Linked DNA regions of Homo sapiens. The protein of the gene in region 2 binds, or shares a complex with, the protein of the main gene of each other region. Each region holds a gene or a part of one and is shown on either strand. Other genes may lie near its edges.

Region 1 (6,928 bases), on a different chromosome or scaffold from region 2:
GCAAGCCCACTGCATGGATCCACAACACAATAGTGGGCTCTAATGTATATATTTAAAGAAAATTTCCTAGAAACAGTAAAACGAATGTAAGTGGTTCCCAAGGGACAGAGCAAGGAAAATCTTTGCTTCCTATTTTCAAGATTGGCAGATGCAACAATGAGAATCTGGAGCAAAACAAAACTGGCATCATTTCTCTAAGAAACTTCTGAGAAATCAAACTGTTGGTTTGCCAGCAAACCTTGAAGATTCCATTTATTCAAGGTATCCTATACTTCCACAGATTTTTCTCTGTAATTACAGTAATTAAACTTAAGTAGACTATGTGGCATCTCCCCCAAAAAACATAGTAGAAACTTCTTAAAGCCAGAATAAATTTCTTCTCTTGTTTTTGTTCTATTACAGGCTTGCAAAAGAACAATAAAGATCAGGAAAAGAGAGAAGTTCAGAATGAATGTGGAGTAAATTACACTATCTGACCATAATTCAGAAAATGTTTCGACTCAGAATTTTAGATTCCTAAACTTGCTTAAGATTTCTCCCCTGCAAAAGGCCTTAAAACCATTTTCTATACCCATATAATGTTAAATCGGTGGTACTTCCTTATTTCCCTAACTGAAATAATACCCTTCATTTTTGGTGTCATTTCAAACATAACCATAACTACTTTGGAGGAAGTGGGTGTATCACTCCTGAGTTTTTGAGAGATGTTTCCGTAAAAGCAAAAGCAACAACAACAAAAAACCCCACACAACCAAAAGACGCCTTTAACTTCCATTTAAAAGAGAATTGGTTTTTAAAAAGCTAACCACTGTTATACATATCTGGCATATATATGGGGACTGCCGAAGCCAGACAGTTGGCAAAAATATGTAAGCCATTTTTGCTCCAAAGTTAGCTAGGATCTGTGGGGAAGTAAACAATAGCTTGCAAGCCCCTGAATGTAGTGCCACTCAAAAATTAAAGAGGAATCGCACTATGCACATTTAATTTAGCAAGTCAAATTACTGCATATGCTGGCCAAAAAATAAAATAAAATAGCAACTTAAATACCAGCAGGATAAGGGCAGTGGCTCACACCTGTAATCCCAGCACTTTTGAGAGGCTGAGACTGCAGAATCACTTGAGCCAGGAGTTCGAGACCAGCCTGGGCAACAAAGTGAGACCCCGTCTCTACAAAAAGTACAAAAACTTAGCCAGGCATGGTAGTGTGTGCCTGCAGTCCCAGCTACTCAGGAGACTGAGCTGGGAGGATCACTTGAGCCCCAGGAAGTCAAGGCTGCAGCAGTGAGCTGTGATTACGCCACTGCATTCCAGCCTCAGCGACTGAGCAAGAGCACGTCTCAAAAAAATCATCATCATCATCATCATCATACCAGCAATTCTGCCTGCCACTTTCCACTTTGTAAGCACATGCTCCAAAATGAGCCTAAGATAGGGGTTTGTCTTCCTCCTTTTAAGCCTCCTCAGGGCAAGCATCTCACAGCGCATCACAACTCTATGGCTTTCAAATATGCTTATTTGCACAACACAGCCCCTAAAGGTAATCTAATTACTTATCTGGGTTACAACCAAAGCAACAGTAACAAGTTTCAAAACTGAAGGAAAAACCGTCCAGGATGTAGTCAGAAACAGGATGCTAATCTCAAGCGTTGCACCTTCCTAGGAATTTTTAAGGGTTAATTTTTATTACATACAATGTTTGCCTCACGGGCTGACTTAAAAACTTGACTCCCACATGAGCTACACAGAAAACTGTGCAAGAAGGAAAGGTTTTCACAAACACACTCACACCTATGAATTACTGAAGTCCCTGCTCTGTGTTGACCTGCAGTGCAGTATGTTCAGATCGCTCCCGTTCATCTACGGTGTAAACTTCTCCAAAACATAGCTTCTTATTTACACAGGAAAGCTCTGAAGGGCAACTAATGATAAAGCCACAGGAAAGTTTTCTCTGCAAGCAATCAAGGCCTTGCTCGGGAAAAGAAACGTTGAGTCTGATTTTGTTCGTTTAAGCCCAAGTGTACAAGGAAACAATAAACATCACTTCCTTATTCTAGAGGACTGAACAAAGGCTTTGCCGTGCATAGATATGATAGAAAAGGAAGTGGCACGTTTGAAGAAATAAATAGCAGCAGCGTTTAAGAGGATCCTCTGACCCTCCCTTACCTCCAAACAGTGTCTCAAGGCACTGCCCTGGATTGAACCGCAGTTCAAACTTCTTAAAACCACCCGAATGGCCCAGGTCTGTGAGTTGGCTCCTCCATTCATAAAGCCATAGAACACCAAGAAAAAGTTATGGGGCCGCAAGAACTAAGGAAGAGGCGGCGATTTAGAAGGGGGAGGCCCGCAAGATTCCAAATTCAGGTCCTCCTCCCCACTACTCCGTCTCCCATCATCATTCTCTTCTCGTTTATCATCATCCTTCCACTTCAAATCACACTCAGTCCTCCTCCTTCTGACACGCCATTCTTCTTCTGTTTTTGTTTGGTAAAGCAAAGTTAAAATTACGGGCCTTAGGACTAAGATAACTAAGTTCGAAGCCAGGCCAGGCCACGTAGTAGTCGTGTGTCCTTGCATAAGCCACTTAATCTATTTCGTGCCTCGGTTTTCCTATCTTGTAAAATGGGTTTGATAACAGTACGCACCTCGGAGGATTGGAGTAGAAGTTAAAATGAAGCATATGAGATGCTTTGTAAAGTCCCCGCACATATTACTCGAATATTATCGTGTGACGGTGGCCATTATTATTACTACTCTTTGCTGGGGTTCCTCTCCTCCTCACACACCCTGCCCCTTACACACGCCCCCACTCCCCTTCCCCCTACAGACCCCCAATGGTCTCTCACACTCTTTCATCTTACGCTCCTCTTTCCGGTAAGCGCAGGCCCGCTTACCGGGACCGACAGGGCCCGCGAAGCGCTGGCTGGCGGGCTGACGAGCTGGCGGGCTGGCGGGCTGACTCCCCGACGGCGGCGACGGCAGCCCCTGGCCCGGAGCTCTTTTCCCTCTACCCCGGATCTGCTCCTAGAACCGAACGAGCCAGTGAGGTGAGCGCCCCCGTGCCCAGAGCGGTCTTACGTGCCTCCCACCAAACAACCGGACGGCACCACTCTACCCACCCGATCCGCCCGACTCGCCTGCTCTCTAGAGTCACTCCAGACGCGCGCGCGCGCCTGGTCACGCCCGCTCCTCCCCCTTTGCGCGCCCCTGCGACTCCGTGCGTGTTCGCTCTGCCTGTGAGGTCGCGGGAAGCAGCGCGCAGGAGCAGAAGTAACAGGGTGCCGCCGAATAGGTGGGGAGTGGAGGCCTGGAAGCACGCTTGCGGAAGACGGCCCGCCTGCGGCCCTCTTCGCGTGATTAGTTGCGCTCGCTCAATTTAATCATGATTCTTACTCCTCCATTTTGGTCCTCTTTCCGAGCGAACAAGGAAGGGGCGTGGTCTAGAACTAGCGCCCCCCCCCACCCCCCCGCCGTGGGCGCGGCCTGGAAAAATCCAAAGGCCGAGGAAAGGGCGTGGCCCTTCGAACAAACCCCTCGAATTACCACGCCCCCTCCTCCTGGCTTTGAAGGACCGTTAAAATCGTTGGCACGAAGGGATTTGTGAAGAGGCTGACGGAGAAAGAGGCTGTCGCGACTTTCTGTTCTAACATGGCCCCGTAGATGTCTCACAAAGCATCTATCCTACGGTTCCTTTCTGGCAAACAATTAGTTGGGGGTGGGGCGGCTCCCCAAAGCCGAATGTGGGTGACGTCCGCCAAGGCCCGCCTACCTCCCGGCCTCACCGAGCAGAGCGAGGAACATTGCCATAGCAACTGGCCCGCCAGGGTCTGCTCGAGTTACAAAGAGGACGGCGCCTCCCGTGGGCACGGCGCCTGGCCAGCGCAGGCGTCGCCGGGCTCTTCAGAGCTCCAAAATCTTTGCGGACGCGCAGGGAGCTCGCCAGATTTTAGTGTCGAGACCCACGGGCTCAGGCCTCGCCCAGGAGCTTCTGAGGCCCCTCTGCCAGCCCCTTGGTTCCCTCTTAATCCTGCTTGAAGAGAGGGCTCTTGACCGACGCCGGCCCTGGGCAGCGTGTGGCCAGCTGGGGCGCGCCTCCGCCTCGTGTTCTCCGCGGTGGGAGAGCAGACAAAGCGCCCGCTTCCTGCACACAGTGTCGGCGGCGGGCCGCCCTCAGCCACTCCCGCCAGCGCTCCACCCCTGTTCCCGAGAGGACGTGGGGGCTGCCCCAAGCACGGTTCTAGTTCTTGTCCCAGATGCTTGTACTTGAGAGGCTGTTGATAAGAAAACGGCAAATGTACCCCTAGTGACGAGGAGAGGGGCTTCTACTATTCACTTTGCACTTTTAAACATTTCCCCCTAAGGGGATTCTCCAAAATCCTCCAATTCCTAGGCTGGATGCCGAGCTGGCCTTGAGCGGCAATTTCAAACGGGATTCCCAAAAGCTGTTCTCCAGGGAGGTGAACTAGCTCCAGCCTCCAGGATAAGAGCATCAAATGCACTTTCTGAACTCCAGTCCTCCTCTTCTCCCCCCCAAATGAGTGTCTAGCTCCTTATCTGCAAAATTAGGTTACGAATGGCTGTCGTGAGCTTGTGAAGATTAAATAGTTAATAATTGGAAAAACACCCCGCACCGAGGAAGATATAAAAGAGCGTTCAATAAATGGCATGTCTCAGTTTGCTCTCCCTAAAACAGTCGATTTGGGGCCGGGATTGGTGGCTCACTGAGCCTGTAATCCCAGCACTTGGGGAGGCCAAGGCAGGCGGATCACCTGAGGTCAGGAGTTCAACACCAGCCTGGCCAACATGGCAAAACCCTGTCTCTACTAAATAATACAAAAATTAGCTGGGCGTGGTGGAGGGCACCTGTAATCCCAGCTACTCCGGAGGCTGAGGCAGGGAGAATTGCTTGAATCCAGGAGGCGGAGGTTACAGTGAGCCTAGATCGTGCCACTGCACTCCAGCCTGGGCGACACAGCAAGACTCCCTCTCAAAAAATAAAAAAATAAACAGTGATTCCGTTGAGGGATACACTGATAAAGAAGGCAGGCAAGTGCCCCATCCCCCAGTCAGTTCTATGGGTTTCTTTTTTTTTTTTTTTTTTTTTTTTTTTTGAGACTGAGTCTCGCTCTGTCACCCAGCCTGGAGTGCAGTGGCGCGATCTCGGCTCACTGCAAGCTCCGCCTCCCGGGTTCACGCCATTCTCCTGCCTCAGCCTCCCGAGCAGCTGGGACTACAGGCGCCCGCCACCATGCCCGGCTAATTTTTTTCTCTTTTTTTAGTAGAGACGGGGTTTCACCCTGTTAGCCAGGATGGTCTCGATCTCCTGACCTCGTGGTCCGCCTGCCTCGGCCTCCCAAAGTGCTGGGATTACAGACCTGAACCACCGCGCCGGGCCAGTTCTGTGGGTTTCTAACGTGCTTTCTTCCACTTGTAATTTAGAGTCAGAAGAGGCTAGCGCTGACAGGCAGGCAGTAGTCACATGAAAAGCGGCCTCCCCAATCCTTTCTTGGAATTTTGTTTTTTCCTGTGGCACTGGGCCTGGTGTGTGCTAAAACAAACAGGAAACACCATGTCCAGCCTCACTACCACCCCTCACCCAGAATTGGGTGTTCGTTTCTCAAATTATTGAAAATAGATATAAAGCAAACAGATGGATTTTATTTTAGGAGAAGTTAGAGTGTTACTCTTTTTTTTTTTTTTTTTTTTGAGACAGAGTCTCGCTCTGTCGCCCAGGCTGGAGTGCAGTGGCGCAATCTTGGCTCACTGCAAGCTCCGGCTCCCGAGTTCACGCCTTTCTCCTGCCTCAGCCTCCCTAGTACCTGGGACTACAGGCGCCAGCCATCACGCCTGGCTAATTTTTTGTATTTTCTTTTAGTAGAGAAAGGGTTTCAATGTGTTGGCCAGGATGTTCTCGATCTCCTGACCTCGTCATCCTCCCGCCTTGGCATCCCAAAGTGCTGGGATTACAGGCCTGAGCCACCGCACCCGGCCTAGAGTGTTAACGTTTTGAACATTGGATATGATGCTGTACTCATGGATATCGCAAAATTAGAATAATTTTCCAGAAGTCACTGCTTCCCAGTCGGAAGGAAGCCCCTAATGAATGAGAGGGTAGTTGGAAAAGAATATATTCAGTTACATCATTTCATATTTGAGAAGAAAACTCTATTGCTTTTTGAGATGAGGGTCTTGCCACGTTATCCAGGCTGGTCTTGAATCCCTGGGCACCCAGCCTCAAGTAATCCTCCTCACTCAGCCTCCTGAGTGCCTGGGATTACAGGTGCATGCCGCTGCTCCTGGCCCCTATTGTTTTTGAGCTGCAAACTATAGAAAGTCAGGTTCGAACAAATCTCATTTGGGAGGGTATACGTTTTTGTTTTTTGTTGTTGTTGTTGTTGTTATTTTTCATTTTTTTTGAGACGGAGTATCGCTCTTGTTGCCCAGGCTGGAGTGCAATATCGCGATCTCGGCTCACCGCAACCTCTGCCTCCTGGGTTCAAGCGATTCTCCTGCCTCAGCCTCCGAGTAGCTGGGATTACGGGCATGCACCACCACACCCGACTGATTTTGTATTTTTAATAGAGACAGTTTCTCCATGTTGGTCAGGCTGGTCTCGAACTGCTGACCTCAGGTGATCTGCCCGCCTTGGCCTCCCAAAGTGCTGGGATTACAGGCCTGAGCCACCACGCCCAGCAGGAGAGTATAAGTTTAAGAAAATTGAGAAGGCCAGGCGCGGTGGCTCACGCCTGTAATCCCAGCACTTTGGGAGGCCAAGGCGGGCAGATCACGAGGTCAGAAGATCGAGACCATGCTGGCCAACATGGTGAAACCCCTGGATTAGCTGGGTGTGGTGGCACACGCCTGTAATCCCAGCTACTCGGGAGGCCGAGGCAGGAGAATTGCTTGAACCCGGGAGGTAGAGGTTGCA
Region 2 (7,000 bases):
AAGCAGGTTCAAGAAACAAACTCCTGTTTGTTTGCCTCTTGATGGTTCAGAAACATTCAGCTGCTTTCACCTCTAGGACAAATGCTTAAGAATTTACTCTCATCAACATTGGAACTTTACGAAAACAGGATTCCTGGTTCATCAGAAGCCTGTATTAATGAAAAATGCATTTTGTTCTTTAGTGCTTAAAAAAAAAAGAAACTCATCTACTTTTTTGCGGAACTTTTTTTGGGATAGCCATTCCTCCTATGGATAGTCATCAGCAAGACACCTAAAAGACATGTTTTCCCTAGTTCTTATCAAAAATTCATCTCACAGAAAAAGTCATTCAAGAAAGCAAAACTTTGCTTTAAGTAGATAAAGTACTGTTTATATGCATTAAACCAAGCAATCCACTCAGGGTTTTAACGGTGTAAAAACTAAATCACAGTACAGCTGAACAGTGAATGGATGGGATGGTTCTGATGAGGTATTATTTTGACATTTTGGTCTCAGAAGGTGTTTCCCCAGTATCCAATGTCTTCAACAACCGGAAAAGACCAGCAGCTTCTCGTATCCTACTGAATTCAATACAGAATGCCTGCACTTCTATAAACAAATCCTGTACATTAATAATTTTGTTACGGATCAAGGATTGGAGAAACACACACACAAGACGCACCAACCGATTCTGAAAAAGGAAAAAAAAAAATGTTAGTCTGCTCATTTTCCTGGCAGCCATTTATAAAATTTACAAAAATTTATATTACCTGCATATATTTATCCTTAATCTGTTCACAAGTAGAGATGCAATTTGATATATAAAGGTGAATAAATTCAGGAGGTAGATCAACAGCTGTAGTTAGTCTGTTTCGTAAAAGAAAATTTGGCCCATTAATTTCATTTGCTAACATTGAGAAACACTGTTAACCATAAAATACAAAATTTGCTTTGGTCATCTGGTGGAATTTTCTGACATATCCAATTCCCTAGTTTTAAATATACTTGGGCAAATTAACCTAAGAGCCATACCTACTTACTCATAAATAACACTGTTTAAAATGTCTCTACTTACATTTACATATCGCAATTATTTTTTTGAGCCCTGTCCCTGAGTATTCTTGGTTAAATCCTAAGTCATGGTCTGTTATTGGAATTTAGAGTCATAATAAAGGCCAAAGCCAGTATTTTCCAAAGGATTACATGGAATGTTTTAATGAGAAAAACGAGTGGGGTGGGAACAGGAATTCCGTACTCAAAGTATGAATTTCCAAAAGAAGATTAATATATGCTGCCTTTTCTAAACTTAACAGACCTCAAAACTTTTTTCAATAAGGCATGAGGATGTAGTGCTCCAAGGACACTGTCATGAGCTGCTGCAGTCTCTTGAGATTTGTGCGTCGCCAAAAAACGTGTTTCACGTTTAAGGATGATGCACTATGATAGGTATCGGGGGAAAACAAACAGGACCTTGTCCTTGAATTCCAAGATACTGAGCAGATAGAATCACATTGATAAAAAGATGTAAGTGATTCTGCATCTTGGACTCAGGGCCAAATGTCTGGTAGAGACAAGAACTGCTATAAGAATATGGTGAAAGGGAAGTGAACACTCAGCGTGGTCAATCCGGAGGACCTGCACAGAACTGGGCCACTGAAAAGAGTGAGTCTTCACTCAGTAGGGGAAAGACTGGAACAAAGAGGGGGGAGATGTGCAGCAGCACGTTTTCAACAAGCAGCTAGCCGGTTTTGCCAGTGACCACGGTTAAAGTTAAAAATTAATTTGGAAACCTCACATTTCCTCCCTCTGCTACCGCTAAAAGAACGCACTCTCCTTCTATGCACGTACTTCCACTCCCTCAGCTTCCAGCTGGGCTTTTTTTCCCCCAATAGTTGATGAAAAAAGGACACATTCTGTAGTTCAATTTCACATAGATTTTTTCAAAAAGCCCCAACTTACAAACAGGTGTTCAAAAACTATGCTCTCCAGTACTGAAGTTTAGTTGCTTGGCACTCAGAATGGATTTCCCCATACAGGAGGACCATATAATTTATCATCCAAAACAGGATACCACGTGAAAGGGAGCTCAGGATGCAAAGCCTCCACCAGGACTCTCAGGCACACCTGAACCTCTGGCCACCCTGCACATAAACAACTTAAGCCCTCCAGCCCATCTAATTCACAATTTACCTAAAAGATATTTGTAAGGAAAATACTCTAAAATGCAAACACTGTACAGCACACATCAAGAAGGGAAGATGTTCTGTTTTCCTGACAGTCAAGGATGGCAGGGTCAGGAGCCTGGGGGTCAGAAAGGCTGGGAGAAGAGCACGAGGAAGCTAGGACAGCATTCCTAGGATTCTCAGCTCTTAAGGTCCATATTTTTCCACACTTACAGCTGTTAGTCACTAAGAAAAAATAGTATCTATATTTGTATAGGGATAAAGAAGACAGGACTATGTATAGGGAAATAAATTTCAGCAATTGGCTGGCACACTGGCTCATGCCTGTAATCCTTGCACTTGGGAGGCTGAGGTGGGCAGATCACTTGAGGTCAGAAGTTCGAGACCCGCCTGACCAACATGGCGAAACCCCGTCTCTACTAAAAATACAAAAATTAGTCGGGTGTGGTAGCACACACCTGTAATGCCAGCTACTAGGGCGGCTAAGGCAGGAGAATTGCTTGAACCCAGCGGGTGGAGGTTGCAGTGAGCTGAGATCACGCCACTGCACTCTAGCCTGGGCAACAGAGTGAGACTCCCTCTCAAAAAAATAAATAAATAAAATAAATTTCAGCAATTAAATTTCATTTATGCTTCTACTAACACTAAATATGTTTGAAATCCTACCCTCAGTTCTTATTAACGCATGCTAAATTTACATGTAGTGAATGCTAAGGCTTACATTATTTCTTTAATAGTTAATCTTACGCCAATAATATCAAGACAAAAATCTGTTACAATTTTTCTTTCCTGGCCATCTAATCTGTATCTATCCCCACACATTTGATCAAATCTAGAAACTTACCGATTTACAACTTCCATTGAATGTAAAGACATGTCCATATTGACCAGGACAGAGAAATACTCAGTGATCTGGCTTGACTGCATTAATTTCAGCAACATTTCTATAGCGACTAAAGGGTTGTTTTCCACAAGGTCAGGAAGTTTGGCTGGGGTGAGGCCAATATGGTAGACAAGTTTGGGGTCTTTTTCCAACTCACCAAGTAGCTAAATACACCAGATTTTTAAAGAGAGAGAGAGGGAGAGAGAAAGGGTGTTGAGTCAATTTTTTTTCCCATGTATATGAAATAAGCATTTTATACAAAAAGCTACAAAACTATCTGCATTGAACCAACTTCATAAATTTCTTCCTTCAAACCCATGATGTCTTGACATTTCTAAATTTACATTTTAATTTTGAACAAACTAAAATGCAAACACATCTAAGACAGTTTATAAATATGCTAGTGATTCCTATTCCTGGGCATCAAACCAGACTCCACACTGTCTGGTCAGATAAAATACTGTCTGGTTGTAACAATGTCAAGTCCTTTGCAGGTTTTTTTTTTCTGTCATCTGTTGTAACTAAAAATAATCTTAATGACCAACTAGTTCTCCCAAGAAACAGTCCTGCCCCACCCCACCCAGGTGGAGACCAGAAATACCTGAGAAGGGGGCGGAGTGGGAAGCCGGAGCGGGAATCCGGACAGCTGACCTGCTGCGAGTCATCAGTCTGCAGAACTTTACAGTTCAAGTCACACCCACACTTTGTAATTCAAACAGGTATCCTCAAAGGACTTTTTCTATGAAGTAAGCACTTCCTCTTTAAATGTCCTATGCTTTTTTTCCCCCGTCTACTTAATATGTTCCACAGTGGACTGTGTTTTCAGGATGGTCTTGCGAGCAAAGCGAACTACAAACGTTGCTATTATTTCGTTTTGAAAATGATATTTTTGGTGGCAAACGTGATAGGAGAGGTCATCTCCTAAAAAGTTCTAACTCAAAAGTGTGCAAACTGGATAAAATTCACCAACCAATAGAAGAGTGGCCTTGCCTTTCCTGAGGAGAGTCATCCAGTCTCACACTCGGGCAGTGGGGGCTACTTTAATCTCAAATACACCACGATCCAGCTGTGTGATGGGGGCGGGTTCCCCTTCCCAGCCTTGTTTTCCTCCCTACAGCCTGTCAGTAACTCCACTTTCCATCAGAAGCGTTACCATCAGCTCAAACGTAACCATTGTGTAGTGTCCCACTGTACACAGCAGTGACACCCCCACTACCCCACCTCTCCCAGGGACAAACATCACAAAGAAAAGTTAGAACATTTTTGCCATCAGACTTCTTGCCCCACCACAGCAAAATTACCAAAGAGTAGAACAAAGCTTCAGAGACCCAAAAACCTTTGCAACTTCCTACTGCTCACTCACAGTGACAGGATTAGTTTATTGCTTACCACTTTCCAAAAAAAAAATAAACTCTTGTTGGATTAAAGATAAGAAAATGCTCACAATGGCTGGGTACAGTGGCTCACACCTGTAATCCCAGCACTTTGGAAGGCCAAGGTTGGCAGATCACTTGAAGCCACCAGACCAGCCTGGCCAACAATGGCAAAACCCCATCTCATAAAAATACAAAAATTAGCCGGGCATGGTGGTGCATGCCTGTAGTCTCAGCTGCTGGGGGCGCTGAGGCACGAGTATCACTTGAACCCGGGAGGCAGAGGCTGCAGTGAGCCGAGATCGTGCCACTGCACTCCACCCTGGGCAGCCGAGTGAGACTCTGTCTCAAAAACAAATTTTTTTAATTAAAAATAAATTTAAAAAAAAAGATAAGAAAATGCTTACAATCAATACACACCTGTGTTTGTTGGGGAGAGGATAAGGGGCTTTTGAAGGCTTTGGCCATTATTCGTTTGATCTCCACACCAGTGCTATTCTTAACACACATCGATTTATCCCACTGGATCGCGTGGTCAGGCTCCGTGGGGTTTAGCCAAGCAAGTTCATCCTCACAAATGTGGAGTGGAGGCGGTGGACGAATAAACTCTGGTCGAAAATGGCCTGTAATGAGAGCCGTGATAGTTGCTCCTATCAGGAAGCTAACATCTCTACACATCTCACACATTTCACTTAATAAAGTATGCAAAGAAATCTCTTAATAAGGATGATGTGACTAGAACTCTCATACTTCAAAATCAGAAGCAGGAATGACACAGGAAGTCAGGGTTTCAGTCAGAATGCAAACAAGACAATGAAAGAACACTATGCCAGCATGATGCCAGAGAACAATCTATTCGCTTTGCAGAAGTGAGGAAAGCCTGGCCGTGATCTGCCCATGCTGCACTTGAGCATGGCCACTCAACAGCAAAAGGGCACGACTCCTAAACGGGTGAAGTCTTTTGATGAAAAAATGAAATACTATGCCCTCACACATCCTATTCTTAGTTACCACTATTTGTTCAGCTGCCACTATGATTTGTACTAGTTTTATCTTTGCATCTTATAACTGAAGTAACAAATTACGTGGCGATGAAGCAGCAGGAGGAAAAGTATGGTTGCCTTTTGATATTTCGAAACGAATGTGGAAACCGTCACGAATCCCTAAATTCACAAATACTATATTCATTTTCAGAAAACAATAGAAGTACAAAAGGAAAATGAAGTGGTTCAACTCAACTATTTTATAAAACAAGATTCATCCCTGAGTTACAAACCCACTGAAATAAATGCTGGCTAGGACTTCTGCTGAACCAATTTCACATCTCACATAGTTTCCACATAGGGCAGGAGTGGCTTATTCCTGTCATGGATCCTAGCCCTGCCAAATTTGAGAGTCTACTGTTGAGTTTACAGAAAATATTTTTTAGTTAAAAATCATCACTTTATCTTAAACATCTCCACTGCCTCTTCACTTACCTCACCAGGACTAGCATCTGAATCTCCCTTCAACCACTTACAAAAATAAAGTTTTTAACAATTTATGAGAAATACTACTTATGTGATAGAGAGTTCTTGCGAGGTGGGGACACCTGGTGTTTGGCTAGACCCACTTATTATGAGTGATCTGCTTTTCATATATCTTCCTGGTGACCTATGCAATTTAGAGTTCTGCCCGAGCAAATATTTAAAAGAAGCCATTACATGCCATGGACATTTCAGTCACACTTGTGACCAGCAGAAACTTCAAATATTAAACCTATGTATGTCAAAGATCTACTGTAAACCAAATGGTACAAAAGTCACTGTGTGAACTTCAAACTCATGGTGATACTACACTATCATCTGGTAAACATGTTCTCATCCCAAAGCAGAAAGCTTGCCTTCATAATTCAAAGCACACAGAAGCCTATAAAACAGATGCCAGGTAGAGTGGTGCATGCCTGTAATTCCAACTATGTGGGAGTCTGAGGTAGGAGGATCCCCTGAGCCTCAAGGGATTGAGTCCAGCCTGGGCATCATAGCAAGATTCCATCTCTTAAAGAAATCCCCAAAAAATGCAGCTATATTATTTCAAATTCTACAAGTGTTTTCTTTGAATTAAAGTAAATTAGGAGTTTATAAGAAAAACTTTAAAATGGAAAAGGAAATGATAGCAATAAGAAGATTTAACAGGTATAAAACAAAAAGATAATGAGCTGCTACAAAAAGACTCATTTCAGTAAAATGAGAATCTGTATTTTTTTTTTTTCCTTTTTGAGACAGAATCTCACTCTGTCACCCAGGCTGGAGTGCAGTGGTTCGATCTCGGCTCCTGCAACTTCTGCCTCAGCAATTCTCCTGACTCAGCCTCCCAAGTAGCTGGGACTACAGATGCATGCCACTACACTCGGCTAATTTTTTATTTTTAGTAGAGATGGGGTTTCACCATGTTGGCCAGGCTGCTCTAGAACTCCTGACCTCAAGTTATCCACCTGCCTCGGCCTCCCAAAATGCTGGGATTGCAGGTGTGAGCCACTGCGCCCAGCCTGTATCTTTAGGTATGCATAGGATAGACATGCAACAAACAACTTGGCATGCATT
Region 3 (7,043 bases), about 120 Mb from region 2:
ATCTAAGTTCTGTCTCAGACAAACTAAATGCAGTTATATCCCCACTTCCCTGTCCTAAAGACACAGGAGCTATGCCATGAGATTAGGAAACTGTTCAGCAGAGTATTTCCCTAAAGTCCTATACATCCTATAAATGTTTACCTGGGGTTATCTGAAAGTCGAAGGTAACATCTCACTACATGCTTCAGCAGACGGGCAGAAGGCTCTTTGGATAGCTGCAGGACCATCTTACCCTGTTTCCCCCAAAATAAGGGGAGGGGTTGGAAAAAACACACAAAACACAAACAAATTCTAATTGACATCAGAGATCAGATAGTCCAAGAATCATAAAAGGTTCCAAAATTGTTAGTTCTAGTCAGAGGACTGAAGTTGTTCAATGCCAGTTATAAAGAGATTAAGCTTTGTGATGAGAAGTAGTTGTAAAGGGGATAGATGAAAGAACTCACCAAGATCATGGCAACATGGGAGAAACGCTCATACGTCTGACATATATAAGCCAAACCAGTGTCATCTAACAAGATCTTCTGGAGGATGAATGTGGCAACCTGAAGCAAAACAAAATCGAAGAGTTTATAAAGTTGCTCAGATTTAATCTTCTCATTTTCTACTCATTTTCCCAGGCATGACTATCAGTCAGAAAATTGAGCAAGCAGGGATCCTTGTATATTATGTACAACTTTATCATATATGTATAGTACAAAGAATAATAAATATTACCATGTTGAACATTACTTTGTACCAGTTTTTTTTTCTAGAGGCTTTACATGCTTATCTTATTTTTATAATAAATCAATGAGGTAGGTACCATTATTATTCTCACTTTACATACAAGGGTAGGTTCCGTGTAATTATCAAATTCTTAAAAACTCAGAGACCTTCTCATTTACAGAGTACCTACTATGTGCCCGGTATAACTGTTAATCAATAATGCACCAGGTTAAGGTCCCAAGTGACAAAGTTACTATGGCACAGCTGAGATCCAAGCCTCATTTGAATATCTAAGGCTCTTCTCTTTTCCATAGGCCAAGATGATTTATTCAGCTATGCCTCCTCTCTTCCAGATGAAGTAAGGCCTTTCTTTCTTTTTTCTTTTCTTTTTTTTTTTTTAGATGGAGTCTCACTCTGTCGCCCAGACTGGAGTGCAGTGGCTCCATTTCAGCTCACTGCAACCTCTGCCACCCTGGTTCAACTGATTCTCCTGCCTCAGCCTCCCGAGTAGCTAGGATTACAGGCTCCTGCCACCATGCCTGGCTAATTTTGGTATTTTTAGTAGAGACGGGGTTTCACCGTCTTGGCTAGGCTGGGCTTGAATTCCCTGACCTCGTGATCCACCTGCCTTGGCCTACCAAAGTGCTGGGATTACAAGCGTGAGCCACTGCACTCGGCTGAGATAAGGCCTTTTTTGTTCTTAAAAGATCTTGAAGAAATAAGATTTTCACGCTTCTCTTTGAAGATTATCTAACAGTAATAAAACATATCCTGGCTGTGAAGCTTATATGTGGCCTCAATTTTTCCCTCAACTTGAGCTCATTAGCTCTTACATAAAAGAGATATTAAAATATTAGTTTAATTTAAATTAGACAATCACGATAATGATACTCTTTCTTGGCTGCTCATCAAAATGAACTGTGGAATTATTTTACTATTTTATTGGGGTTATAACACTGTAGTAGGCTGAATAATGGCTCTCAAAGATATCCAGGCCCTAATCACCAAACTCTGCAAATGTTACCTTAAATGAAAAATGGGACTTTGCAGACGTGATTAAGTTAAGGATCTTGAGATGGGGGATTATCCCTGTTTATCCAAGTAGGCCTTAAATGTAATAACGAAGTGTCCTTAAAAGCGATGTAGAGAAGGCCAGGCAAAGTGACCCATGCTGGTAATCTCAGCACTCTGGGAGGCCAAGGTGGGAGGACTGCTTGAGGCCAGGAGTTCAAGGATGCAGTGAGTTATGATCATGCCACTGCACTCCAGCCTGGGCGACAGAGAAAACCCCATCTCTTAAAACAAACAAACAAACAAAACAACAACAACAACAACAACAACAAGAGAGATGTAGGGAGAGATTTTACCACAAAGGAGAAAGCAATGTGACAAGCAGAAAGAGATTTGAACATGCCACATCGCTGGATCTGAAGAGGGAGGGGGCCATAATCCAGGGAATGCAAGAAATGCAGTTCTAGAAGCTAGAAAAGGCAACAAAAAGACTCTCCTCTATATCCTCCAGAGAAAGCATGACCCTCCTGATACATTGACTTTAGATTGGTGAAACTCATTTAGAACTTGTGACTTCCAAAACTATAAAACAGTAAACTTCCATTGTTTTAAGCCACTACCCTTCTAGCTTGTGGTAATTTGTTATAGCAGCAGGTTATATAGGAACCTAATATAAACTTACACACAGTGAAGTGTGTTAAGTGCACTAATCTTAAGTGTACCTTGAATTTTTACCTATGTACACATTATGTACTATAACCAGATTAAAATACAAAATATTGTATAAAATACAGAATATTTGGGAGGTGGAGGCAGGCAGATTGCCTGAGCTTAGGAGTTCAAGACTAGCATGGGCTACATGGCGAAACTCCATCTCTACTAAAAATACAAAAAATTAGCTGGGTATGATGGTGTGTGCCTGTAGTTCCAACTACTCAGGAGGCTGAGGCATGAGAATTGCTTGAACCCAGGAGGCAGAGGTTGCAATGAGCCGAGATCACTCCACTTCACTCCAGCCTGGGTGACAGAGTGAGACTGTCTCAAAAACAAAAAACAACAACAACAAAAAAAAAAACAGAAAAAAGCAATATTTCTACCAACTCAGGATTCCAGCATTCCCTTGTACCTTTCCCCAGTCAATGTTCTTTCCTCAGAGCTAACCACGAATCCAACTTATTGCCAGTAATTGGCTTTGCTTGTTCTTAAACTTCACATAATCAACATACAGTATGAATTCCCATGTGTCTGGCTTCTTTTGCTCAACAATGCCTTTGACAGTCATCCATATATTGAATATTTAAAATAAAAAGCTTAAAAATAGCCAGGTATAGGGATGTGTGCCAGTATCAAAGCTACCTACTCCAGAGAGGGAAGTGGGAAGACTGCTTGAGCCCCGGAGTTCAAGGCTATAGTGTGCCATTATCATGGCTGTGAATAGCCACTGCATTCCAGCCTGGGCAACATAGTGAAACCTTGTCTCTTTAAAAACAATAAATTGGTCAGGCACAGTGGCTCATGCTTGTACTCCTAGTACTACGGCAGAAGGCAGGAAGATCCTTTGAGCCCAGGAGTTCAAGAGTAGCCCAGGCAACATAGGGAGACCTTGTCTTTACAAAAAATAAAAATAATTAGCTGAGTGTGGTGGAGCAGGCATGTGGTCCCAGCTACTTGTGAAGCTGAGGTGGGAGGATCAACTGAACCTAGGAGGTCGAGGCGGCAGTGAGCCATGCCTCTCTACTCCAGCCTGGGTGACAGACAGAGATCCTGTCTCTAAATAAATAAATAATTTAATTAAAAATTAAAAAACCAGTGCTCACTTAGACAGCACATGTACTAAAATTGGAACAACACAGAGAAGATTAGTGTGGCCCCTGTGCGAAGATAATACACAAATTCATGAAGCATTCCATATATATATATTTAAAAGTAAAAAGCCAAAAAAATCATTATACCTGCTTACACCCAACTCAAGAATAAAATATTTGTTAGACTAAAAAAGTAATTTAATGTGACAAGGCAAATTTTAGAGCAGAGGTTGAATACTACCCAAAATTGTCAGCAGTATGGAAAAGTAACCTTGAAAAAAATCAAATAATATGAAATTTAAAAATTGAAAGTGATTAGAGAAAAAAATATGAAAGACAGATAATAGAGCATAACTGATGTTGAACCAAGAGACTTGAACGAATAAAAGAGAAAAATATACAAATCAACAAAAAAGACACAAGTAATATGCTCTTTCAGAAAAAAATTGAGGCTGGGTGAGGTGGCTCACGCCTGTAATCCCAGCACTTTGGGAGGCCAAGGTGGGCGGATCATCTGAGGTCAGGAGTTCAAGACCAGCCTGTCCAACATGACAAAACCCAATCTCTACTAAAAATACAAAAAAAAAAAAATTAGCCAGGAGTGGTGGTGTGTGCCTGTAGTCCCAGCTACGTGGGAGGCTGAGGCAGAAGAATTGCTTGAACCTGATAGGTGGAGGTTGCAGCGAGCTGAGATTACATCACTCCATCTCAAAAAAAAAAAAAAAAAAAAAAAAAAGGCCGGGTGGAGTGGCTCATGACTGTAAACCCAGCACTTTGGGAGGCTGAGGCGGACGGATCACCTGAGGTCAGGGGTTCAACACCAGCCTGGTTAATATAGTGAAACCCCATTTCTACTAAAAATACAAATATTAGCTGGGTATGGTGGCACATGCCTGTAGTCCCAGCTACTTGGGAGGCTGAGGCAGGAGAACTGCTTGAACCCGGGAGGCGGAGGTTGCAATGAGCTGAGATTACACCACTGCACTCCAGCCTGGGTGACACAGCAAGACTCCATCTCAGAGAAAAAAAAAAAAAAAGATATATGATTATCAAATGAACTTTAAAAATAATAAAAGACACTTGTAGGTAACCACACAAAAAAGTAAGTTCACCTAAAAAAGGAAAGAATTAGGCTGACCCTGAGACTTCTCTGCAATATTCAATGTTAGAAGACAAAAGGACTATGGCAATGGAGGTCTGAGACAGAACAATGAGGTAAGAATTCTGTACAATGAGTAAGAATTCTGTACCTTGTCATGTTGTCATTCATGGTTAAAGTACATAGTAAGCAGAAGCTCAAGTACATATAATTGATTATGTATTTTAAAAAAGCCCGGTTATAGAAGGAGCAGGATTGAAATTTTAAAATTAAAAAAATGAAACCGTAATAATATACTTAGAATTTACCTGTGGAGTGAGATGTGGGTTTGGAGAAAAGAAATTTAGTGTTTAACTTGATTTTCTTCTGAATGGTTTGGGTTTTTCAATAATTGTTTCATAATAATTTTTATTCAAAACAGAAAATATTCATACAAATTTCAAAAGCTTGAAGAGAGAAAATGATCCCAGGACCATAAGGAAGCAGCTTAAGAGTCAACACAATGTAAAATCTAAGTTAAAAGTACATACTGTTTTAGAAAGTTCACTTCCAGATTCCATAATTCGCAAACATAAAGGGATAATTTCTGTTGTTAATAAAAAGTTGATTACTTCTTGTTCATCTGTTTTCACCAGGGCCCCTAAAGAAAATAAGGACAAACAAAATTATTTTACAGTTAGGGTTTCCAGTTAACATTAACTTCGAACTGTTTATCCAGTGAGTTGTGAACTTAAATAACAGAACACAAACTGGGGTTTGTTAAAGGAATCAGATTCACACTCGTATTAAAAAAAAAAAGGAAGAGGGCGGCGCAGTAGCTCACACCTGTAATCCCAGCACTTTGGGAGGCCGAGGCGGGCAGATCACTTGAGGTCGGGAGTTCAAGATCAGCCTGGCCAACATGGTGAAACCCCGTCTCTACTAAAAATACAAAAATTAGCAAGGCATGGTGGCAGGCTCCTGTAATCCCAGCTACTCGGGAAGCTGAGGCAGGAGAATCAATTGAACCTGTACAGGTTACAGTGAGCTGAGATTGCACCACTGCACTCTAGTCTGGGTGACAGACTCTCTCTAAAAAAAAAAGCTTTCTGCACTAAATTGTCTTTGTACCTTTGTCAAAAATCAACTGACCATATATGTGTGGGTCTATTTCTGGACTCTTCATTCTGCTCCAATGGTCTGTAAATCTTTCTTTTCTCCAGTATTACACTGCCTTGACTACTATATTTTTCCAGTAGGTGTGGAACTCAGGTAGTATATGTCTTCCAACTTTGTTCTTTTAAAGAAATGTTTGGATATTCTAGTTCCTTTGGCTTTCCATATAAATCTTAGGATCAGTCTATTAGAAGGCTGCCATAACAAAATACCATAGACTGGTGGCTTAAACAACTGAAATTTATTGTCTCATAGTTCTAGCAGCTGAAAGTCTGAGATCAGGCTGGGCACAGTGGCTCACACCTGTAATCACAGCACTTTGGGAGGCTGAGGCAGCTGGATCACCTGAGGTCAGGAGTTCCAAGACCAGCCTGGCCAACATCGTGAAACCCTGTCTCTATTAAAAATACAAAAATTAGCCGGGTGTGGTGGCACGCACCTGTAGTCCCAGCTACTCGGGATGCTGAGGCAGAAGAATTGCTAGAACCCAGGAGGCGGAGGGTGCAGTGAGCCAAAATTATGCCACTGCACTCTAGCCTGGGCAACAGAGCAAGAATCTGTCTCACAAAAAAAAAAAAAAAAGCTGAGATCAGGGTGCCAGCATGGTATGGTATAGTTCTTGTAAAGTCTCTCTTCCTGGCTTGTAGATGGCCAGCTTCTCACTATGTCCTCACATGGCAGAGAGCGAATGAGGGAGCACAAGCTCTTTGGTGTCTCTTCTTAGAAGAATACTAACCTCATGAGGGCCATGTCCTCATCTAAACCTAATTATCTTTCAAAGGTCCCATCTCCAAATACCATGACATGAGGGGGTAGGGTTTCAAAGCATGAAATTTTGGGGAGGACACAATTCAGTCCATAGCAGTCAGCCTGCCAATTTCTAAAAAAAGTGCTGCTGGGATTTTGTTGGAATTACTCTGAATCTATAGATCAGTTTGGGGAGAATGAACAACTTAACAATACTGAATCATTGATACACCAATCAATGAACATGGTTTATCTCTGCATTTTATTTCATTAGAAATCAGTTTTGTAGTTTTTAGTTATAGATCATGCATATATTTTTAAAGATTTATACCCAAATTTTCACATTTCGGTGCTGTTATAAATGGCAGTTTAAAAAAATTTCAGCTAGGTGCAGTGGCTCACATCTGTAATCCCAGCACTTTGGGAGGCCAAGGTGGGAGAACCACTTGAGCCCAGAAGTTTGAGACAAGCCTGGGCAACAAAAAGTGAGACCTTGTGTCTACAAAAAAATAAAAAAA
Region 4 (5,435 bases), on a different chromosome or scaffold from region 2:
TTTATGGTTTATGAAAACCTATGATTTATGTTGCATCTTCCGGGGAAGGTTTAACAGTACAAGGAGCTGAATCCTACCTGAAATTATTAATGCTTAATATATTGCTTCTGTTTGATTGATAAAGGTGCTTAATCAATTGAAAAAAAAACGCATAATGCTTCAAGGTAAAATTCCGTTGATTCTGAATTTAAAAAGATACTACAGAATGCGTCAGTTCTCCTGTTGTATTTTTCTCAGTTATGAGAGCAAGGCTATTTTGTCAGTTTAGATTTTGTGTCTTTTTCTGTCAGTATGTATGGCTCCCTAATTGAAAACATCTTAAATGAACTAATCAAACACTTATTGTGTGAAAGCTGAATACTTTAAAAAGCAACCTTAATTATAAACTCATCTTGGAGTAGCATGCAAATGTGCTAAAGTTATTTAAAAAACATATACTTAGGCAAGAAGTAGAGGACAGCCCCAGAATGGCTACAATGAATGGAAGGAAAGTCTGTATACACACATATAGCTCAAGAACAAGTTTTTATTATGCATGGGTTTCGCAGTGATACAAGACACCTGCTCACAACTTACAGTATTAATTTTTTAGAAAAACAAAACAGGTATATGGCATGAGTGAAACAGTTCCCCATTAAAAGCACTTAAAACCTATGACATGGCTAGTAAGATGTAAAATATTAAGTCCCCTTGGGGTCTTGCAAACTTGTATTTCCTAACAATTTGGAAGCCATGATGATAGTCTGAAGCTAAAGGAACTCCAATTTCTTGGTATGATACTAAATAAAGATTCTTATCTTTTGGGAGAAAGAGCCAAAACAGAAGGGTGTGAAAGCAGTGAATTTCCCCTCCTATGACAATAAAGCAAGAGGGCAGATTATATTCATGAATGCTTCTCATATACAAAAAATTCCTCCATACCAGGAAGGAGAGTATTGACCAGTTTATCTTTAAAAAGAAAATGAGTAATTCTGGAGAAATGTAGCTTGTTCATTCACCTACAGACTATGGCTACAAAGCAATGAAATGGACTTCTAAAGAGAAATTGCTCAATTGCTTTTATACTAAACGTTAAATGTAACTAATGCTGTAGAAAACTGTTTAAAACAAATGGAAATTGTCTAGTGATAATGTACATGAATCTTGTTTTCTTGGAATTTTCATTCTATGGTGACATTTTTTTAACTTTCAAAACCTGAAATGAAAATTCTGCAGGATTTGGATGTGTACAGTCCTACGTTTCTATAATGTCTTAATAGAAAAATAAATGACAGGTAACGTTGTTATAAAAGAAACTCTCATATAAATTACACCAACATAGCAAATGGCATGTGTGAACTGGCCTTCACTACAAAGCACCGACACACAGAATAATCAGCATTTTTCCTATCCCTTTATTTATAAATTCTAACACATTTATTTTATAGACATGAGATAACATATGCATTCATAATTTGATTCCACCTCAGGTTGCCTACCCAGAGGAGCCACTGCATTTGGCAATGCAGATGAAATAGCAAACAGGACAGACATAGACCCTTGAGTTTCTTCTAGTAGAGAGGTGGACAAGCCTTTTTTTTTTTTTTTTTTTTTTTTTTGAAAAGGGCAGGTAGCAAATATTAGAGGCTTTGCAAGCTAAGACAAAATGAAGGACATTATTTAGGTACTCAAGGAAACTTTTCACCAAATTTTTATTCTAAAAATTGAAAACTCAAAATATTGAGTACAATTTTTTTTTCTTTTTTTAGTAATAGAGTTCTACTAATGGGAATAATGGGATTTTTTGGCAGGGGACGGGAGGTAACATTTTGCTCAATTTGGGCTGAAAGTTGGTATCCCCTCATTGGAATAAATAGAAAATGTTAATCTGTTAATGCTGATGTGTAATGGGATTTCACGTATTTCATCTTTGAAAATGTCTTTTCACACAAACAGGTCAAGGTACTGCTAAATACTGACACATCCACCCATGAGCATGTGATTTTAGTTAAGCATATTCATCACTTGTAAGGCATTTGTAGGATTCATCTTTTTGGTATTTGCCCTTTAGCATGTCATTCATTCAAGATGATTCATTTCCAACAGAAGATTAAGAGGAAACTTTAAAAGCATTTAATTGCAGTTAAATGCTTTTAAAATTTAAAAATTTTCTTTGCACTGCATCAAGGTCCAAAAAACTGCTACAGGAAAATATATCCACTAAAAATGGATTTGGCAATACAGCGCTGTTTTGACTTCTCATAGCACAGAAAGTATATAAAGCAGCTTGACAATCTTAAGTTTTAGTTTTTATTGAAATGAATTTACCATATTATGTTGTTGTACCTTGTAATTTCAGGTCAAATTCATTAAGAAACATTTTCAAGTCTGTGGCAAAAGTTAATTTCCAAAGTTACTCAGTGTTAAAAAACAGTGGTTGAGGATGGTTTTTCTCATTCAGAAAAATTTCAATGTCAGCCCAGAGCCCAAAAAAATAAAAATAAATCTTTAGCACTGCTAAGCCATTGAACGCCTGTGTGGCAAATCAAATCAGGATATTCAGCTTCTGTTTCTCACAAAAAAAAAAAAATCATGGAACTGAAGATGGTTAAGTCCACAAGAGCAAATGAAGTTAACTGTTGACCAGTTCAGTAACACCAATATTTCCTGTGAAGTACCTGCTGATGAATAATCAAGTGAGTAACTACAGGCTTTAAACAACTTACGTTTTCACAAGCCTTAAAATTTGACCAAATAAACTTTTTTTCTGCTTCATGCATTTTTCCCAGCATCGGTTGCATCACATCTTAGTAGATTCCACTTCAGGTTGTACTGTTTATCAACTTTTTTGAAAATATTCCCACTTGTAGTTCCATACAAATTCTTCGATCACTTCAAATCCAGCAATGGTTTCTCAAAAAATAAAGCTAGGCAGTACTGACTAGTAAGAGGCAAAGAATTAACAGTGTCATTTGATGTTGTGTCCAAAATCCTCATTCTTCAAACTACTGTTCTCATCAAAGGGCTGATGTCTTAATTTTCTCTGGACACATGTCTTTGGGTTGGTTACTATCTTCAAGCACGATGTAATTCAGCATTAGTAAATGGTTTTCTTTGCTTGGCTAACAAATAGGCTACTTGTAAACATTTTGGTTGCAGCCTCATTTTTATTACTTTTGTGAAATTTTGCTGTGATGTTTCATTTAAATTTTCTAATTCTTCTGACTGTTGCTTTCCCACCAGTTGGGAATATTGTGATGTTAGTCTGATACTGTCAGTCTATTCTTTTACCAGTTATGGTGACACTGCATTATAAACACAATGTACCAGCATATAATAAAATAGTCCATATTCCAATGTGCCTTGAAAGTGTAACATTCAAAGGTACTTTTCTTGTTCTGAGATACAGGGCATGAACTGGTAGCAGAAAAAGTAATAAATCTAGCAATACACAGGGCATTCCAAATGCTTTCAGGTAATATCTGCATCACCATGATTCTGTAGCTTGCCAAGCGGCAATGTGAAACAAGACACACATACACAGGTTCTGTAGCAGCTACTCAACTTTCCCATTATAGCAAAAAAGTATCCATAGATAATATGTAAATTAGTGTGGCTGCATTCCAATAAAAACTTATAGACACTAAAATTTGAATTTCATGTAATTTTCAGATGTCAGGAAATAATCTTTTGATTATTTTTCCCAACCATTTAAAAGCCATTTTCAGTTCATGGGCCACACAAAAACAGGCAGCAAGCTGATTCTGGCTACGGGCCATAGTTTGACAACCCTTGCTCTAGTAGATTTAACAGAATATATGAGCCTGTAATTAATTAATGGCTCAGTAACACTAAAATATCAGCCAAATATCTTACATCTGGAACCTAGACTTTACAAACATTGAGACTGTCTGGAACAAAATAAAAAAGTAAAACTTAGACCCAGTAAAAGTCAAAATGTTCCTCTACAAAAGTTACACTATACGGTTGCTCAACCTACAATGAGGTTACATCTGAAAAAATACTAAGATGCATTTAATGCAGGCAACAGCATACAGTCCCCCAATTTACGATGGTTCAAGTTATAAATTTTGACTTTGCAATGGTGCAAAAGCAATACACATTCAGTAGAAACTATAACCCCATCTTTGGTCCTAAGGCGCTCCTAAACTTTTGATGGGGTTACCTCTCAATACACCCACTGTAAAGTTGAAAAATCATTAAGTCGAAAGTAAGTTAGGGATTATCTATACTTTTTAGGGACAGAAGCCAGAAATGATACAAGTTATGAGATTGAGCAACTATGTGGCTAATAAAAAGGCAATCTTTATCATTCCTATTTGAAATCCAGCATTGATTTCTCAAATAGTTGAACAGAATTTAAATATTAGTTTTCTCAGCTAACAAATCACAAGCGAAAAGAAGCTTCACTTCCTTTTTAACGAAGACAAAAGAAGCCAGTTAGAAACTTACTACATTGTGTTAGATTTTTTAAAAAGCCACAGTTATACCAAATGTATTTACTTTGTGAAGTATATCCTTCGGAATAAATGCATTCCTGGAAAGGAGAAACAGAAGTCAGTCCTTAATTAGCTAGTTGAGGTACTCATAAAGAACAAGAATAAGCCAACACTTGAAATGCAGAAAACTCAGACTGATTTTTCAATTAATGGACTAATAATCATCTAGGGTTAATGAAGGAAGTTACTGAATTCTGTTGAGTTGCCCAAATAAAAATGAACAATATCCCCCAAATAAGTATTTCCAAAAGAAAATCACCAGTCATCAACATTTATAAGAAAACATTTTGAAGCCTTTATTTACAAAAGCTTTAAAAACAAATAATACCCTCTGTTTTGCAAATAATGTTTTGTTTAAAAAGGACCACCCAGTTACAGCACTGTAATATCATGAATAAAGAATGTACAAGGGAGACAAACCAATGTGACTAACATTTGGAGATTTGCTAATATTACTGATTGAAGTGTAGGTAACACACATTATAACTTGTAGTCCATCATTTCGGGGTAGAGTTAATGATTACCGTAAAGTCTTCCTACACATGCTCTGGTCTGGTCACATATTCTGCATGGCTAAGTATTTCACAGTCTCTTTTGTCAATATATATAAAATAGATTGCAAAGATATACACAAAAAAATAAGCATTACACTCCTCAGGTAATTTTATCAGCTATATATATATATATGAGAATATATATATATTTTGTTGTTTTGTACCAAATCTCTCCATTATTTACCTTTGTAGCAACTATGAAAGCACAATTTTTGTCTTCTAATTTAATTTGGTACAAAATATACCTAAAGACTTATCTTTGGATTTTTAATAAAATTGATTTGTGTAACCAACAAATCAAGAGCATCATAAGAATGGCTACAAAATTTAAAAAAAAAAAAAGGGTAAATGGTGATGGAATAAAAATAAGCAGATCAAGGGA

Evidence for each region.
Region 1: CNOT11 (region 2) and CNOT8 share a complex: the UniProt entries of both Homo sapiens proteins name them as parts of the CCR4-NOT complex.
Region 3: CNOT11 (region 2) and CNOT9 share a complex: the UniProt entries of both Homo sapiens proteins name them as parts of the CCR4-NOT complex.
Region 4: CNOT11 (region 2) and CNOT7 share a complex: the UniProt entries of both Homo sapiens proteins name them as parts of the CCR4-NOT complex.

What each region holds. Positions count from the first base shown.
Region 1 is NC_000005.10:154,854,735-154,861,662, reverse strand, and holds the start of CNOT8 (CCR4-NOT transcription complex subunit 8), read right to left. Parts: upstream 3,037-6,928; 5' UTR 2,895-3,036; exon of another isoform or gene 1-2,894. UniProt on the Homo sapiens protein: Has 3'-5' poly(A) exoribonuclease activity for synthetic poly(A) RNA substrate. Its function seems to be partially redundant with that of CNOT7.
Region 2 is NC_000002.12:101,262,886-101,269,885, reverse strand, and holds part of CNOT11 (CCR4-NOT transcription complex subunit 11), read right to left. Parts: intron 5,042-7,000; coding exon 4,839-5,041; intron 3,765-4,838; exon of another isoform or gene 3,210-3,764; coding exon 3,007-3,209; intron 847-3,006; coding exon 750-846; intron 671-749; coding exon 473-670; 3' UTR 1-472. UniProt on the Homo sapiens protein: Component of the CCR4-NOT complex which is one of the major cellular mRNA deadenylases and is linked to various cellular processes including bulk mRNA degradation, miRNA-mediated repression, translational repression during translational initiation and general transcription regulation.
Region 3 is NC_000002.12:218,585,806-218,592,848, reverse strand, and holds part of CNOT9 (CCR4-NOT transcription complex subunit 9), read right to left. Parts: intron 5,545-7,043; coding exon of another isoform or gene 5,449-5,544; intron 5,264-5,448; coding exon 5,154-5,263; intron 546-5,153; coding exon 447-545; intron 234-446; coding exon 142-233; intron 1-141. UniProt on the Homo sapiens protein: Component of the CCR4-NOT complex which is one of the major cellular mRNA deadenylases and is linked to various cellular processes including bulk mRNA degradation, miRNA-mediated repression, translational repression during translational initiation and general transcription regulation.
Region 4 is NC_000008.11:17,224,458-17,229,892, forward strand, and holds the end of CNOT7 (CCR4-NOT transcription complex subunit 7), read right to left. Parts: 3' UTR 509-5,435; downstream 1-508. UniProt on the Homo sapiens protein: Has 3'-5' poly(A) exoribonuclease activity for synthetic poly(A) RNA substrate. Its function seems to be partially redundant with that of CNOT8.